Linked DNA regions of Homo sapiens: region 2 is linked to region 1. A link means that fine-mapping ties the variant in region 1 to the expression of a gene that starts in the linked region. Tissue or cell type: caudate. Region 1 holds a variant in brackets; the other region holds the start of a gene. All regions are shown on one strand. Distances are between the middles of the regions.

The links. PIP is the estimated chance that this variant, and not a neighbour inherited with it, causes the effect.
Region 2: SFTPD starts here. The variant in region 1 is fine-mapped to the expression of SFTPD in caudate (GTEx, PIP above 0.99).

The regions. Positions count from the first base shown.
Region 1 is chr10:79,720,508-79,728,612 of GRCh38, forward strand. All of the region lies in intron 6 of NUTM2B-AS1 (NUTM2B antisense RNA 1), which reads right to left. Among named protein-coding and RNA genes, the nearest start is that of NUTM2B, 21 kb to the left of the region's middle. The variant C/T (reference allele first, on the strand shown) is at 4,212.
Region 2 is chr10:79,945,498-79,953,602 of GRCh38, forward strand. It overlaps SFTPD (surfactant protein D), which reads right to left and starts at 3,608. Exons shown (of 8, transcript NM_003019.5): 1 at 3,569-3,608; 2 at 964-1,165. The coding sequence starts at 1,162.

The sequences.
Region 1 (8,105 bases):
CATTTGAGAAAATCCATTCCTCCTTTATGATAGAACTGTCCAACAAACCAGGAATAGAAAGGAACTGTCTCAACATGATAAAGACCATGTATTAAGAACTCACGACTAACATCATTCTCAATGGGGAAAAATTTCAAGCTTTTCCACTAAAATCAGAAGCCATGGATGCCTGTGTTTGCCACTTCTATTCAACACAGTATTGGCAGTTCTAGCCAGACCCATCAGGCAAGAAAAAGAAATAAAATAAATCCAAATTAGAAAGGAAGAAGTAAAACTATCTCTATTTGCAAGTGATATAAGTGTAGAAAGCCCTAAAGAATACCAAAAATAGCCTCTTAAAGCTAATAAACAAATTTAGCAAGGCTTCAGAATACAAAATCAACACACAAAAATCAGTCGTGTTTCTACACACTAGCAGTAAAAAATCTGAAAAGGAAATTAAGAATTTTTTATTTACAGTAGTACCCAAAAGAATAAAATATTTAGAAATCAATTTAACCAGGAAGGCAGAAGACTTGTACACTGAAAACTACAAAGCATTCTGGAAAGAAATTAAAGCAGACTTAAATAAATGGAAAGAGATCCTGTGTTCATAAGTTGGAAGACTTAATATTGTTAAAACGACAACGCTACTCAAAATGATATGTAGAGTCAATGTAATCACGCTAATAAGATCCCAACAGCGCTTTTGGCAGAAACGGAAAAACCTATTCTAAAATTCATATAAAATTTCAAGGAACCCAAAATAGCCAAAATAATCTGAAGAGGAACAAAGTTGTAGGACTCACATTTTCTGATATTAAAATGTACTACATAGCTATAATAATTGAAATAGCATGGACTTGGCACAGAGATAGACAATATAGACCAATGGAATAGAATCGAGAGGCCAGAACTAACACTCACATCTATGGGTAATTAATTTTCAGCAAGGGTTCCAGGATCACTCAATGGGGAAAAGGACAATCTCTTCAACAAATGGTGTTGGGGAAACTAGATATCCACAAGCAAAAGAATGAAGTTGGACCTATACTTTTACACAATGTACAAACATTAACTCAAAATGGATCAAAGACCAAAATTTAATGCTATAAAACACTTAAATATTAAATGCTATAAAACTCTTAGAGGAAAACATACTGAAAAATCTTCATGACCTTGGGTTTGACAATGGTTTCTTAAATATAACATCAAAAGTACAAGTGATGAAACAACTGATAAATTGGACTTCATCAAAATTGTGTATCAAGTGACACTATAAAGAGAGTGAAAAGATAACACAAAAAATTGGAGAAAATGTTTGCAAATCATACATCTGACAAAAAACTAATATACTCAGGCATTTCTTTATGGCAATGCAAGAATGGCCTAATACAATACCCAAAAGAATTGAATGCATAAAGAATCCTACAACTCAACAAATAAAAGATAAATAACTCAAATTTTTAATGGACAAAAGACTTAGACACTTCTCTAAAAAAAAGACATGTAAATGGTCAATAAGCAACTCAAAAGATGCTAAAACCACAATGAGATACCACTTTGTACCTACTAGAATGGCTATAATTAGAAGAAAAAATAACTAGTGTTGTTGAACATGTGGAGAAATTGGAAACCTAGTATACCTCTGGTGGGAATGTAAATGGTTTAACTGCTGAGGAAGATAGTTTGGCAATTCCTCAAAACGTAAAACAGAATTATCACCCAGTAATTCTACTCTTAAGTATATACCGGATATAGTTTGACTGTTTGTTCCTATGCAAATCTCATGTTGAAATGTAATTAATCTCCGGTGTTAGAGTTGGGGCCTGGTGGGAGGTGATTGGATCATGGGAGTGGTTTCTCATGAGTGGCTTCACCATCTCTAGCTGTCATCAAGATTGTGAGTTCTCACAAGATTTGATTGTTTAAAAGTGTGCAGCACCTCCCCACTTCCTCTCTTGCTCTGGCTTTTGCCATGTGACATGCCTGCACCCACTTTGCCTTCCATCATGATTGGAAGCTTCCTGAAGCCTCCCTGGAAGCAGATGCTGCTATGCTTCCTGTACAGACTGCAGAAATGTGAGCCAACTAAACCCTTTTTTCTTTGGCACTTACCCAGTCTCAGGTATTTCTTTATATCAATGCAAGAATGGCCTAATACAATACCCCAAAGAATTGAAAACAACAACTTAATCAGTGACTTGTACACTAATGTTCATAGCAGCATTATTCACAATAGACAAAAGGTAGAAACAACCAAAATGTCTATCAAAAGATAAACGGATAGGCCAGGCACGATGGCTCACGCCTGTAATCCCAGTACTTTGTGAGGCCAAGGTGGGCGGATCACCTGAGTTCAGGAGTTCGAGACTAGCTTGGCCAACATGGTAAAACCCTGTCTTTAAAAAACAAACAAACAAAAAGATAAATGGATAAACAAGATGCAGTATATACATACAATTATTATTCAGCCATAGAAAAGAAGAATGGAATACTGATACATGCTATAAGATGGATGAACCTTGAAAACATTATGCTAAGTGAAATAAGCTAGACACAAAAGGATAGTGTATGATACCATTATGTGAAATATTTACAATAGGCAAATTCATAGAGACAGGAAGTAGATTAGAGGTTACCAGAGGTTACCAGGGGCTGGAAGGAGAGGAAAATGGGAGTTTTTGCTGAATAAGCACAGTTTCTATTTGGGGTGATGAAAGGGCTTTGGTAATAGATGGTGGTAACGGTTGCACAACATTGTAAATATAATTAATACCACCAAATTGTACAGTTAAAAATGATTAAAATGGCAAATTGCATATGTCTTTCTCCGTTTGTGTTGCTATAAAGGAATACCCAAGGCTGGGTAATTTATAAAGAAAAGAGGTGTATTTAGCTTATGATTCTGCAGATTGTACAAGAAGCATGGCACTGGCATCCACATCTGGTGAGGGCCTCAGGCTGCTTCCGCTCATGTCAGAAAGGGAAGGCAAGCCAATGTGTGTGGAGATCACATGGTGAGAGAGGAAACAAGAAAGAGGTGGGTACTGCTAGGCTCTTTTAACAACTAGCTCTTGGCCAGGTGAGGTGGCTCATGCTTGTAATCTCAACACCTTGGGAGGCTGAGGTGGGAGAATCTCTTCAGCCCAAGAGTTCAAGACCAGCCTAAAAAAAAAAAAAAAATCCTATAAAACCTAGCTCTCACAGGAACTAAGAGACCAAAAACTCACTCACCTGCAACCCAGGGAGAACATTAATCTATTCATGAGGGATCTGCCCCATGACCCAAATACCTTCCATTAGGCCCCACCTCCAACACTGGGTATCCAATTTCAACATCAGATTTGGAGGGTCAAATACCTGGGCTACATACCCTTGTCTCTAGAAAAAATATATAAAATTTAGATGGGTGTGGTGACACATACCTCTAGTCTCAGCTACTTTGGAGGCTGAGGCAGGAGGATCATTTCAGCCCAGAATTTCGAGGCTACAGTGAGCTATAATCAGGCCACTGTACAACAGCCTGCAAGACAGAATGAGACCCTGTCTTTAAAAAAATAAAAATAAAAATAAATTAATTACTTTTAAAAAGACCTTGTATTGCAAGTTGGTAAACATAAGTACATTTGTTGGGACTATGAAATAATTCACCCACAGGATCAATGTTACAAATTGTTATTTGCATCTCAATTTAGTTCGTTCAACCCAGAATTCACATTTGCCATAAAACTGTAGTCAATGATTCAATTAAACTACTGATAACCAAAGGGGAAAGCAACATATTGAATCAGAAATAGTTTTATCAATTGGTGTCACCAAAGAAAAGCAGGTTTCACTAGTGTTGAGAAAATAGAAAGTTTTCTATTGATTATGGAGAAATTTCAGTTCAGTTTCTAGAAGGTTAAATGCCCCAATTTCTTTTTTTTTAATGACTGTGTTAAACTAAATAATGGCCTCCATTATTTCCATATGCAAATCCTCAGAACCTACCACTGTTACGTTATATGGCAAAAGGGAATTTGCAAATGTGATTAAGGATCTTGAAATTGGGAGATTATCCTGGGTTATCTGATGTCCCCAATGTAATCACAAGGATCTTTATAAAAAAAGGAAATGTGAGACAAAGGGAGAGAAGGTGATGTGATGAAGTAGAGGTCAGAGTGATGTGGGGGCTAGATCCAAGGAATGTGGGCAGCCTCTAGAAGCTGAGACAGACAGGGAAATGGATT[C/T]TCCTCCTAGAGCCTCCAGAAGGAAAGGAGCCTTGCCAACCCATTTGAAACTTCTGATCTCCAGATCTATACAATAATACATCTGTGTTGTTTTTTTTATTTTTATTTTGTTAGGTACAGGTCTTGCTCTGTTGCTCAGGCTAGAGTGCAGTGGCATGGTCTGGGCTCACTACAGCCTCAACCTCCCAGGCTCAAATGATCCTCCTGCCTCAACCTCCTGAGTAGGTGGAGCTACAGACATGTGCCACCACACCTGGCTAATTTTTTTATTTTTTGTAGAGATGGGGTCTCACTACATTGCCCACCCTGGTCTCCAACTCCTGGGCTCAAGCAATCCTCCTGCCTCAGCCTCCCAAAGTGCTGGGCTTAGAAGTGTGAGAGTCACAGTTCCTGGCCAATCTGTGTTATTTTAATGTTTAAGTTTGTCATAATCTGTTACAGCAGCAATAAAAAACTAACAAAATGACTAATTTTACTTCCAAATCCATTGTCTCCCTCCCTTAAAATAATTTTATCACAATAACTATTTTTATATTACAGTCACACACCATATAATGACCTTTTGGTCAATGACAAACTTCATATACAGTGGTAGTTCCTTAAGATTGCAGTGGAGCTGAAAAATTTTTATTGCCCAGATATGTCAGAGCTGATCATGGTACAACACATTACTTACATATTTGTGATGATGCTGGTGTAAACGAACCTACTGTGCTGCCAGTCCTATAAAAGTATAGTACATACAATATGTACAGTACATGGTACTTGATAATGATAACAGACGACTGCGTTATTGGTTTATGTACTTGCTATATTATACTTGTCTTATTATTTTAGAGTGTCTTTTTTATACTTAAAAAAAAGTTAACTGCAAAACAGTCCTTCAGGAGGTATTCCAGATAAGGCATAGTTACCATAGGAGATGGCAGCTCCATGCATGTTACTGCTCCTGAAGACCTTCCAATGGGAGAAGATAAGGAGGTGAAAGACAGTGATATTGAAGACCCTGGCCCTGTGTAGGCCTAGTCTCATGTGTAATGTGTGTTTATGTCTTTTTGTTTTTTGTTTTTTTTTGAGACTAGGCCTCACTATGTTGGCCCACGCTGGAGTGCAGTGGCTGTTCACAGGTGCAATCATATTGCACTGCAGCCTCGAACTCCTGGCCTTGGACAATCCTCCCACCTCAGCCTTCTGAGTAGCTGGGATTATAGGCTTGCACCATAGCACCTGGCTATGTCTTCATTTTTAAACAAAAAAGTTTGAAAGTAAAAAATAAATAAATAAAAATTTTTAAATAGAAGAAAGCTTATAGGCTGTGTGCAGTGGCTCATACCTGTAATCCCAGCAATTAGGGAGGCTGAGGCAGGCAGATCACTTGAGGCTAGGAGTTTGAGACCAGTCTGGCCCACATGGTGAAACTCTGTCTCTATTAAAAATGCAAAAATTAGCCAGGCATGGTGGCACACTCCTGTGTCCTAAGCTGCTCGAGAGGCTGAGGCATGAGAACTGCTTGAACTTGGGAGGCGGAGGTTGCAGTGAGCCAAAATCATGCCACTGCACTCCAGCCTGGACAACAGAGTGAGACTCTGTCTTAAAAAAAAAAAAAAAAAAGAAAGAAAATGAAAAAGAAAAAACCTCACTGTAGTCTCCACCTCCTGGGCTCAAGCAATCCTTGCACCTCAGCCTCCTAAGTAGCTGGGACCACAGGCACACACCACCACACCCAGCTAATTTTTGTATTTTTTTTTTTTTGGTACAGACAGGGTTTCATCATGTTGCCCAGGCTGGTCTTGAACTCCTGGGCTCAAGAGATCCTCCTGCCTCTGCCTCCCAAATTGCTGGGATTACAGGCATGAGCCACTGTGCCTGGCCTAAGTGTACCACTTTATATCTTCTATAGTTTACTTTTACTGTACCTTTTCTACATTTAGGTACACAAATATTGACCATTATGTTACAACTGCTTACAGTATTCAGTACAATAATAGGCTGCCAGGTTTGCAGCCTAGGAACAATAGACAATGCCATATATAGCCTAGATGTGTTGTAGACTATACCATCTATGTTTGTGTAAGTGCACTGTATGATGTTTGCACAACGATGGAATCACCTCATGATGAATTTTTCAGACTATATCCTTGTTAAGTAATGCATGACCTTAATCAGGAATGAGTCAGAGCAGTATTGTAATCTTGATGAAGATGTTGATGTAGATAATACTCCCATTTACAATGCACTTGCCAAATACAAGGCATTGCACTGAAAGCTTTACATACTTTATTTAAAAACATTTTACAACCTTTTAGGTAAGTACCATTAACCACTTTTACAGATCAGAAAACAGGGTCTATGAGGTGAAATAATTTGTCATACAGTGGTGATGTAAATATGCATATAATGAAAGAGAATAGGCAAGTCAGAAGTGATTTTTGTATTTCTTTTAATAGATTAAGGGTACTTACTATCAGCAAAAGAGTGAAAGTCTGACAGAAAAGAAAAAGATGGAAAGAAATGTGGGGATGTGCAATTCCTTATGTTGGTTGGTTCAGCAGAGCTTTGCCGTTGTTCAGATGGAGTTTAGGCAAGCAAAAGATGACCAGCCATTGCTGGGTATTTGAACATCAGATGTTCATAAGGCTTAGGTATTCTTAAAAGAAAAATTTATTCTCTTAAAAATTCTGAAAAAAAGTTCTCTGTATTAAAACTTCATAATGAACATTGCCACATTGTATATTAGGCACAGATATTATTTGTTGGAGTTTTTGGTAATTGTTATTTTTGTAACTGGAATATTTAATATATGTTTTATACATATTTATTTTATTTATTTATTTTTTGAGATGGAGTCTCACTCTGTCGCCCAGGCTGCAGTGAAGTGGCGCGATCTTGGCTCACTGCAACCTTTGCCTCCCAGGTTCAAGTGATTCTCCTGCCTCAGCCGCCCGAGTAGCTGGGACTACAGGCACGTGCCACCACGCCCAGCTAATTTTTTGTATTTTTAGTAGAGACGGGGTTTCACTGTGTTAGCCAGGATGGCTTCGATCTCCTGACCTCGTGATCCACCCACCTTGGCCTCCCAAAGTGTTGGGATTACAGGCGTGAGCCACCGCTATATATTTTGCAAACAATAGCAAATCTAGAGGAAATTCTTTGAAGTAAGAAGCAGTGGTACTTAAAACTGGCTACTTGTATTTATCATCTCTGTTTCAGTTTTTTAAGAAATTCAAAATTTTTACAGAGAGTTGATAAAAACATTTGATGATTTGGGGTGCAGAGGAAGGATGGCTGGTATTTGAAAAATAAATAAATAAAGGCCTTCCTTGATTCTTAATGTTTAGACTGAAGGCTTCAGTGGAGCTTCTTCCTCAGCCTGAATTCCAGTGATAATGTGTCTGTTCTTGACATGAGCAATAACTGGAGTACTTAGGATTAAACAAAATATTAGATGTGCCGGGCCAGAGGAGGTGAGGAAAGTCTAAAGTGATAAGGTGCTAGTCAGCTCAGAGTGGCTGTTTTAGATAGTGTAATACAGCAGACTAGAAACTTGTCGGAAAGGAAAGGTACCAGGCAGGAGATAAATGTACACCCACCTTAGCTAATGTAAGGAGCTGAAAACTCTATTTTGAATTTTTATCCTAAACATGGAAATAACATCCTTATGAGAAATTGAACACTAAATAGACATATTAAACCAATTTTGCTTATTGAGACATCTGTTCATTCATTTATTCAACAGCTATTTACTGAGTGGATACTTGGTAGTTTTTAGGCCTTAGAATTAACCCAAGACAAACTTGTGAGGTAGGAAGTTGCATTTCAGTCATCTCACTACTTTGCTCTTTCTTGAGACTTCAGCCTTCCCTTTCCTCCCTCAGGTTTTGGAGCTTAGAAATT
Region 2 (8,105 bases), 220 kb after region 1:
CCCTCAGTTCATGCTGCTGGCTGATGGAATTCTCCTTTCTTGCCAGTAAGACCTAGATCTTTCCCTACAAGCGGGGAGCAGTATTTCCAGGGACAATTCCCTTACTCATCAGTACCTCTGCTAAGCTCAAGATAATTCACCTATTAGGTACAGCAGAAAATGCAACTTTATCCCAAAGACTCAAGAAAAAATAAAGCCTTTGGCTCAATGATTCATCACTGGGTGGTAGATATCATTCCCATTACCAGATAAAAAAAACAGACTCAGTGACACTGAGGGGCTCTCCCAGTGTGGAGATGGAGCCCAGGCCAGTCTGATGCAGAGCCTTCGTCCTTTCCACCTCCAGAATGGTTGCTACTTAGCCTCTCTGCATCATCATTTTCTTACCTGTCGAAGGAGATTAATATGTCCCCTGTAAGACTCTTGGGAGGATTAAATGAACTACTCCAGTGAATGCCCAAGCACAAGGGTGGACAAAGAAATGTGAGTGCCTTTTCTCCCCGTGTAATGTATTAGAGCAAATCCTCTTGATTAGGCTTGAGAATGGAGCCATGGAGCCCCATTTTTTTCCCACCCTTCATGCAGTAGTGTTTAATTAAATATTTAAAATATTTAATGCCCTGCACAGGCATCATTTAATTGGAATGAACAACTGCTAACTGCTGGCACAGGGCTCTAGAAGGCCCCAGATATCAGTAATTTACCACTGTTTGCTTGCTCTTGGGATAGGAAGGATCCGGGGATCCTAGAGGAGGAGCTAGGGCAGTTGGGTGCTGGAGGAGGCACATGGGGGCTCAGCACAGCCACTTGTTTGCCAGCTGGTGGAGCAGTGTGGAACTCGCCTTCTTGGGAGGAAGAAACACGTCTCCAGACTTCCATAACAAAGTACCCAGAGTTGCTGGGCTAGTTACAGTTCCAATGACCATTCCTCCCCAGCAGGATAAGCCCAGGGCCCCACCCTACCTGGGTCCCCCTTCTCGCCCCGAGGGCCCTCTCTCCCATCCCGTCCATCGCGACCAGGCAGGCCACTCTCCACTGAGCTACACATGACCAGGGTGCAAGCACTGGGCATTGTTCTGTGGGAGTAGGTCTTCATTTCTGCTTCCAGGTAGCCCAGGGGCTGTGTGAGCAGGACCAGTGCAGAGAGGAGGAAGAGCAGCATGGCCTGGAGAGGTGAACAGAAAGAGAAAAGACATGCTTATGCTTCATGGACATGGTTTAGGGCTTGGCTCAGCTTCTAGAGGTGACAAGAAGCCCCCATTCCCTCCTTCTGTCCTCTGCTATGGGGCCTAGAGCAGCAGGAATCCAAAAGCAGTTTAAGGACAAGGAGGGCACAAGGTCTGGATGGAGAGCATGAGTTACCCAGCTGGAACTCTGACATAGGTTGACAGCAGCATCCCCCATTCCCAGGTGCTCATGTCTTCCCTTCTTGTGCCTTCCCTTGGGCACTAAGTTTGGCACAGTGGCTAGGATGTAGCATTCCTCACTGGGGCCATCTGTCACATCAAGAAGGGTTCATTGAGTGCCTCTGGGCAGGACACCCCCCGCCCACTCCCTAGACCATCTCCCTGTCTGTACCACTGAGGCAACTGGCTTAGCTCAGACAAGGCAAGCCTGTTTCTTCTCTCTTGCTGCCTTGCATGGACTAGCACTGGTGCTGATAGTGCTGGTCTGAAAATGCAGCCAGAGTCCTGAGTGCTTAGTAATGTCCTTCCTGAGCGCAGGCTGGGAGTGTGGTGCACATTTGCCTGGCAATTTGCCATTCCTCGAGCAGGTGCTGTCTCTAGAGAAAAGTCCCAGAGGGAACCCAGGTGAAAGTTTTCAGAGACACTAAACTAGCAGTAGGAGAAATCCTGAGACACCTAGAGTTCTTCTAAGACCTGAGAGGGTTTGGAAAAGAAGTATGTGGAGTCTGGGCACGGTCGCTCATGCCTGTAACCCCAGCACTTTGGGAGGCCGAGGCGGGCAGATCACTTGAAGTCAGGAGTTCGAGACCAGCCTGGCCAACATGGCAAAACCCCATCTCTACTAAAAGTATAAAAAATTAGCCAGATGTGGTGGTGCGTGCTGTAATCCCAGCTACTCGGGAGGCTGAGGCAGGAGAATCTCTTGAACCCGGGAGGTGGAGGGTGCAGTGAGCCGAGATCGTGCCACTGCACTCCAGCCTGGGCAAGAGAGTGAGACTCCATCTCAGAAAAAAAAAGAAGTCTTATATGGAAAGAGGACATGCCAGGTAGGCTCAGTCAGGCAGAAAGCTAGTGTTGTGGGTAAGCAAGAGCAACTACCCAACAGGGCACCCATTTACTATCTAAGATGGTCAGGAACTGAGACCAGGATAAGAGCAGGACCTGGGACATTAACTGTTTTGGGTATCTTTTCTCTCAATGAGAAACCGTAAAGTTATGAGAGTGAAAAGAGCTGATCAGATTCGCAGAGGCTAGGAACAAAGCCAGAGGGACTTGTGCAAAGAAAGGGGTCACCAGGCCAACTGGGGTGGTGGCAAGTGGGGGGCTTCCTGCCCAGAGGAGTGCCTTCTTCTTTGACTGCTGGTGATTCTGGGCTGTGGATGACCCCTATTTCTCACTAGCCTCTTTCAATTTTGAAATCACCACTTCCTTGGGTATCCTGGTAGTCTCTAGAAACACCTGGGTGAGCTCACTGCCAGCAGCGGCTACCTTGTTACACCTGTTCTGGCAGAGGCTCAATCATGAGCAGCAAGGGCCAGACCCAGGCCAGAGCAAGGGCATTGTTCTGTGCCCCGCAGCTCCCTCACCCCTCAGGCCCTGTGTCTGATTCTGGGGAAGAATGAAAGGCAATAGGCATTCTGTCTACAGGCTCAAGATGGCACAGAAGGCACCAGCAGCCACTGTGGCTTGAAGGACACTTGGAGAGGGCAGACCCGGGTTTTCAGGCCCAGGATTCAGATGAGGCATCTTAGCTGGGGCAGCAGATGGAGTGGGCAGAGTTGTGGTCCCCCTCAACCCCTGCAGTGCCCAGTTTATGCTAAGCTTTCAGAGTACAATTTCATTGAAAAGGCCATCTCCTCTGAACATGGATTGGAAAATCAGAGACCTACTCCAGTAAGTATATTTTTTAAAGTAAAGACCTGAAGCTATGAGAAAAACAGGCTTGCCCTGCTTTTCCACAGGCTGTTGGCACCAGGATGGGTTTAGAACCCCAGCCTGTGAGTGCCTGGGTTTGTCTCTCTTCCACTGTCCTTTCTGAAGAAATCAGTGCAGAAAAGAGCCTAGAGATAAATTAGCATTGCATTTTTCCACCTGAAGCTTCCACACTGTGGCATCCCAGGTCTAGATAGTGTCACACCCACTCTTCCACCCTGTGCACCCCCAGCTCAGAAAGCAAATCCTCCCCTGGGCTGAGGCCACTGAATAAGGGGCAGAAGAGCACCATAAGACCTCCTGTGCTCCCCACCTCCTGCGCCCATGCCTCCTAGACCAGAACAGCTACACAGACCCTCCACACCAATAGGTTGAATTGCCCAGGTCGGCAGAGGGATATTTATAGGATGTGGAGAAAATAAAAAGAAGGCAAGAACAGAGACACTTACAGGTTTCTTTTTGTTAGGCCCCAGGAGCTCCAAGCAAACTAGCCTTTGCTTGGCAGGCACTCACTATTTATGCCTGCCCTGTACCCTGAGCTGCCCAGCCCCAAAAACTCCCTTCAAGAAGTGGGGCAATTTTCTTCTTTATTGACTCACTCACTCTTATCCCCACCTGCGTTCTGGAAACCTGCCACTGATATTCACAATACTATGCACATCCATCACTATAGTTTGCAGAACACTATCAGGCCTTGAACTCATCTGCACCTTTCTCACTGCAGCTCTGTGAATTAAGTGGCATCATCAGTGTCTGTATTTTATAGATGTCTAGAAATCAGGAGTCCAGAGACCAGCAGGTTGCACAATGACCTACAGCGATTGCAAAAGGAACTCACAACTGCAGATCTTAAGAGCCAAGACCTGCTGTGTCCACTTCTCCTCTTCCTTTGTCTCAACAGCACTGCCCAGATATTGGGAAAGAGCTGAGAGCTGCTTGGAATACCTGGGCAGGGGTGGGGCAGGTAGAGTGGCTGCAGAGGCAGCAGCATGTGGGGGCAGCAGCTAGGGAGCTGCCACCTGGAAAGAGTTGCTCTTTTGCATGCTGCTCTAGGCCTCAGAGAGCCCCTGCCTTGCTTGTCTTTTGTGGGATGGATTTCCCTTAGCAGACCTCTGCCTTGCCTTGTTCAGGCTTGTTCTCCCTGCCATCTTAGCTGGTGTTTGTCTTGTGCACTGTTCTTGTAACTAGTTAGGACCCCTGAGCTGATGCTACTTTTATCCAATCTTTTAGTCTGTATGTATTTTTTTTTTTTTTGAGACAGTCTCACTCTGTCACCCAGGCTAGAGTGCCATAATGCATTTATAGCTCACTGCAGCCTCAAACTCCTGGGCTCAAGTGATTGTCCTGCCTCAGCCTCTTTACAGGTGAGCATGATCACACCTGGCTAATTTCTCTTTTTAATTTTTTACAGAGATGGGGTCTCACTCTGTTGCCCACGCTGGTCTCAAACTCCTGGTCTCAAGCAATTCTCCTGCCTCAGCCTACCGAAGTTCTGAGATTACAAGTGTAAGCCATCATACCCAGCACCAATCTGTATCTTTTAAGTGGAACATTTACTCCATTTATTATCAAGGTTAATATTGATATGTGATGTTTTGTTCCTGTCATGATAATTGTTACCCAGTTGCTTTTTAGTCTCAATTATGTAATTGCTTTATATAATCTGTGAGTTTTTCACTTTAATGTGCTTTTATGATGAGGAGTATTGTCCATTCATTTCCATGTTTAGAACTTTAAGCATTTCTTGTAGTGCTGGTCTTGTGGTGACAAATTCCCTTTGCATTTGTTGTATGGGAAAAACTTTATTTCTCCTTCATTTATGCAGCTTAGTTTAGCAGGATACAAAATTCTTGGCTGGCAGGATTTTTGTTTAAGTAGATTAAACATAAGACCCCAATCTCTTCTGGCTTGTAAGGTTTCTGCTAAGAAGTCCATTGTTAGTCTGTTGGGTTTTCCTGTATAGATTAGACATTTCTCTCTTGCTGCTTTTAGGATGTTTTCCTTCACATTGACTTTGGATAGTCTGATGACGATATGCCTTTATGAGGTTTCTCTTGTAAAGCATCTTCCAGGTGTTCTCTGAGCATCTCCTATCTGGATGTCTAATTCTCTAGCAAGACCAGGGAAGTTTTCCTGAATTATTCCCTCAAATAGGTTTTCCAAGCTTTTAATTTTTTTTCTTCTCCCTCAGGAATGTCTATATATTGTATATTTGGTAACTTTATGTAATTCTATATTTTTCAAAGTCTTTGTTCATTTTTAAAAATTTATTTTTTCTGTATTTCTGTCTGACTAGGTTAATTCAAATGACTGGCCTTCAGGCTCTGAAATTATTTCTTCTGCTTGGTCTAGTCTTTTGCTAAAAGTTTCAACTATATTTTATAGTTCCTTCAATAAATTTTTATTTCTAGAAGTTCTATTTGGTTTTTGTTTTTTAATCTCTATCTCTTTTGTAAATTTTTCATTAATATCCTGAATTATTTTTCTGATTTCCTTATGTTAGTTTTCAACTTTCTCTTGTATCTCATTGAGCTTCCTTACAACTCATATCTTAAATTCTTTATTTGTTATTTCAAAATTTTTATATTGGTTAGGATCCATTGCTAGGGAGCTGGTGTGATCCTTTGGGCATGTCAAAATACTGGTTTTTCGTACTTCCAGAGTGCTTATGCTGATTTCTTCTCATCTAGAGAACCCGTTACTTCTTACTTTTGAACTTACTCTCATTTGAATGGGATTTTTTCCCCCTTTGAAGGTGTGACTGTATGTTGTGTGTGATCATTTGGCTTCAATTTTGGGTGCCTTCCGTGGGTCACAGCTCTGTATGAGTTCCTTGGTCATAGATAGCTTTTGTGTGGTGGCTTTATTATGCTGTATAGATAGCTTTTGTGTGGTGGCTTTATTATGCTGATTGTAGTAGCAATGTATTGGGCATATGAGCAGGAATACTACCTTCTGAGGGGCTGGGAATGTGGAAGTCTCTGAAAGTTTATCTCATTCCCCAGCACTATACCCTCTGTCAGCCTGTTTTTTATTTGGTTGTGCAATTCAATCTGCATCCCAATAAAAGCTGGCTGTGGCATAAGCTGATGGGTACTTGGTCTTTGTTTTCTGGGAGGGGATCTCTGTTGTCACAGGCAGTTGGCTGGTCTGTGGATGGCCTGATTCCCTGAAGGGAACACAAAGCTTTGGAGGGGGACACAAAACTGAGGGGCACTAAACGACCAAGCTCACCCTGGGAAACCCCAATTATGAGCAGAAGCAACTGCCTTGATGGGAGTGGAAATGGGAGCTCATGGTGAAAGGCACTGATGTCTCCACCAGAGTGGGAAGGAGTATACCAGCTCCACATCCTGGGAAGGCAGGAAGGCAATCCACTTTCCTAAAACACCCTTGTCCCGGAGCTTGTGACCTTCAGTTCAGATAGACATTGTCCTTCATCTCCAGGCTGCAGTGTGATGGAGGTCTGCAGAAAACACCCGTCCTGTGGCTACCACCAAAATGGCCTTGGGATAGAACCTCTTCCCTCAGCAGCTCTGATATTCATCTGCATTCTGCTATGGGAATGCTGCTGCTCCATATGGGGAGGAGGATAAACTCTGCCCTTCGTGCAAGGCTTGGCCAGCAGGCACCCCATCAATGGGAGTGCAGCTGCCCCCAGGAGCCCTCAAAAGCCATCCCCAGGTGCACTTGTGCCAGCTCCCAGTAGGGACAGCCAACGGTCTATCTGGAGCATTGAGTGAGGGGGTAGGAGAAGACTCCCTTTCCATGTTTATTCCCAGGCACCAGTGTCACCTGCCTACTGGTGCAGAACCACACTCCTCCCCTTCAGACCCCAGAACCATGCCTGTGTCTCTGCTGGGAGGGGCACAGCCAGCCTCTTCTCACACGTGGGGAGCTCTTAGGCAGAGGAGAGCAAATGAACTGGTTTCTTTTATCCAAAGGAGTACGTTGGCACAGACACTCTCCCTTCTCCTAAGAGCTAGACTTCTAGGAATTCCATAGCTCCCCAGGGTCCCACCCGTCCCCTGTGGTTGCTGCAGTCTAAGTGGGTTCTGGGGAATGTTCATGGAGGATCTAGTGATGCAGAAACACAAGGGCTGGGATTCCTTGGGAAGAACAGACCCACAATGGGTGCATAACCAGTATGACACCTGCCACTTCAACTCAGGTTTTGGGGGAGAGCGAGTGTGCCTGCATGAGCTGGCCACCCAATGCTCTGCCCTAAAGAAGTTCCCAAATTGCCACTGACAGCAATGCCTGGGCTCACAGGTGCAGAGGGTTTCTCCAACAAGTTCAGCAGTCCATAGTCTGCCACAGGAGTGAGGGGAGCAACTTCCCCTCCTACCCTCTCCATGGGACTCTATGTTCCTTGGAAGTCAATCTCTGCAAAACTCTTGCTGTCTTCTTTTTCAGCACCACAGCTTTTTCCTGTGGGTTCCCCAATAGGTCATGTCACTCATTCCTCAGTATTCCACTCAGACCATGATTATTCAACTGCAATTTTGGTTCTTTGTTCTGAGGAGAACTGGTGTCCAATGTCTCTAGACAGCCATCTTGGGGAAAGGAAAACTCTACTTGTCTTTATAATTACTTTTACCAGTGAAACTTATACTTTTGTGTGCATTTGTGTTTCTGTTTAACCTCTTTTTATTTCAACCTCGAGAACTTCCTTTAGCACTTCTTGCAAGGTGGACCTAGTGGTGACAAACTCCCTCAGTATATGTTTGTCTGGGATAGTTTTTATCTCTCCTTCACTAATAAAAGACACATTGCTGGGTACAGAATTCCTGATTGACAGGTGGGTTTTTTTTTTTTTTCTTTCAGTACTTTGAATATATCATTTCATTCTCTCCTGGTCTGCAGGGTTTCCACTGAGAAATCTCGTGATAGTCTTTTGGAGGTTCTCTTTTATGTGACAAGTCAGTTTTCTCCTGCTGCTTTCAATTTTTTTTCTTTGTATTTGACTTTGGACAAACTAATTAT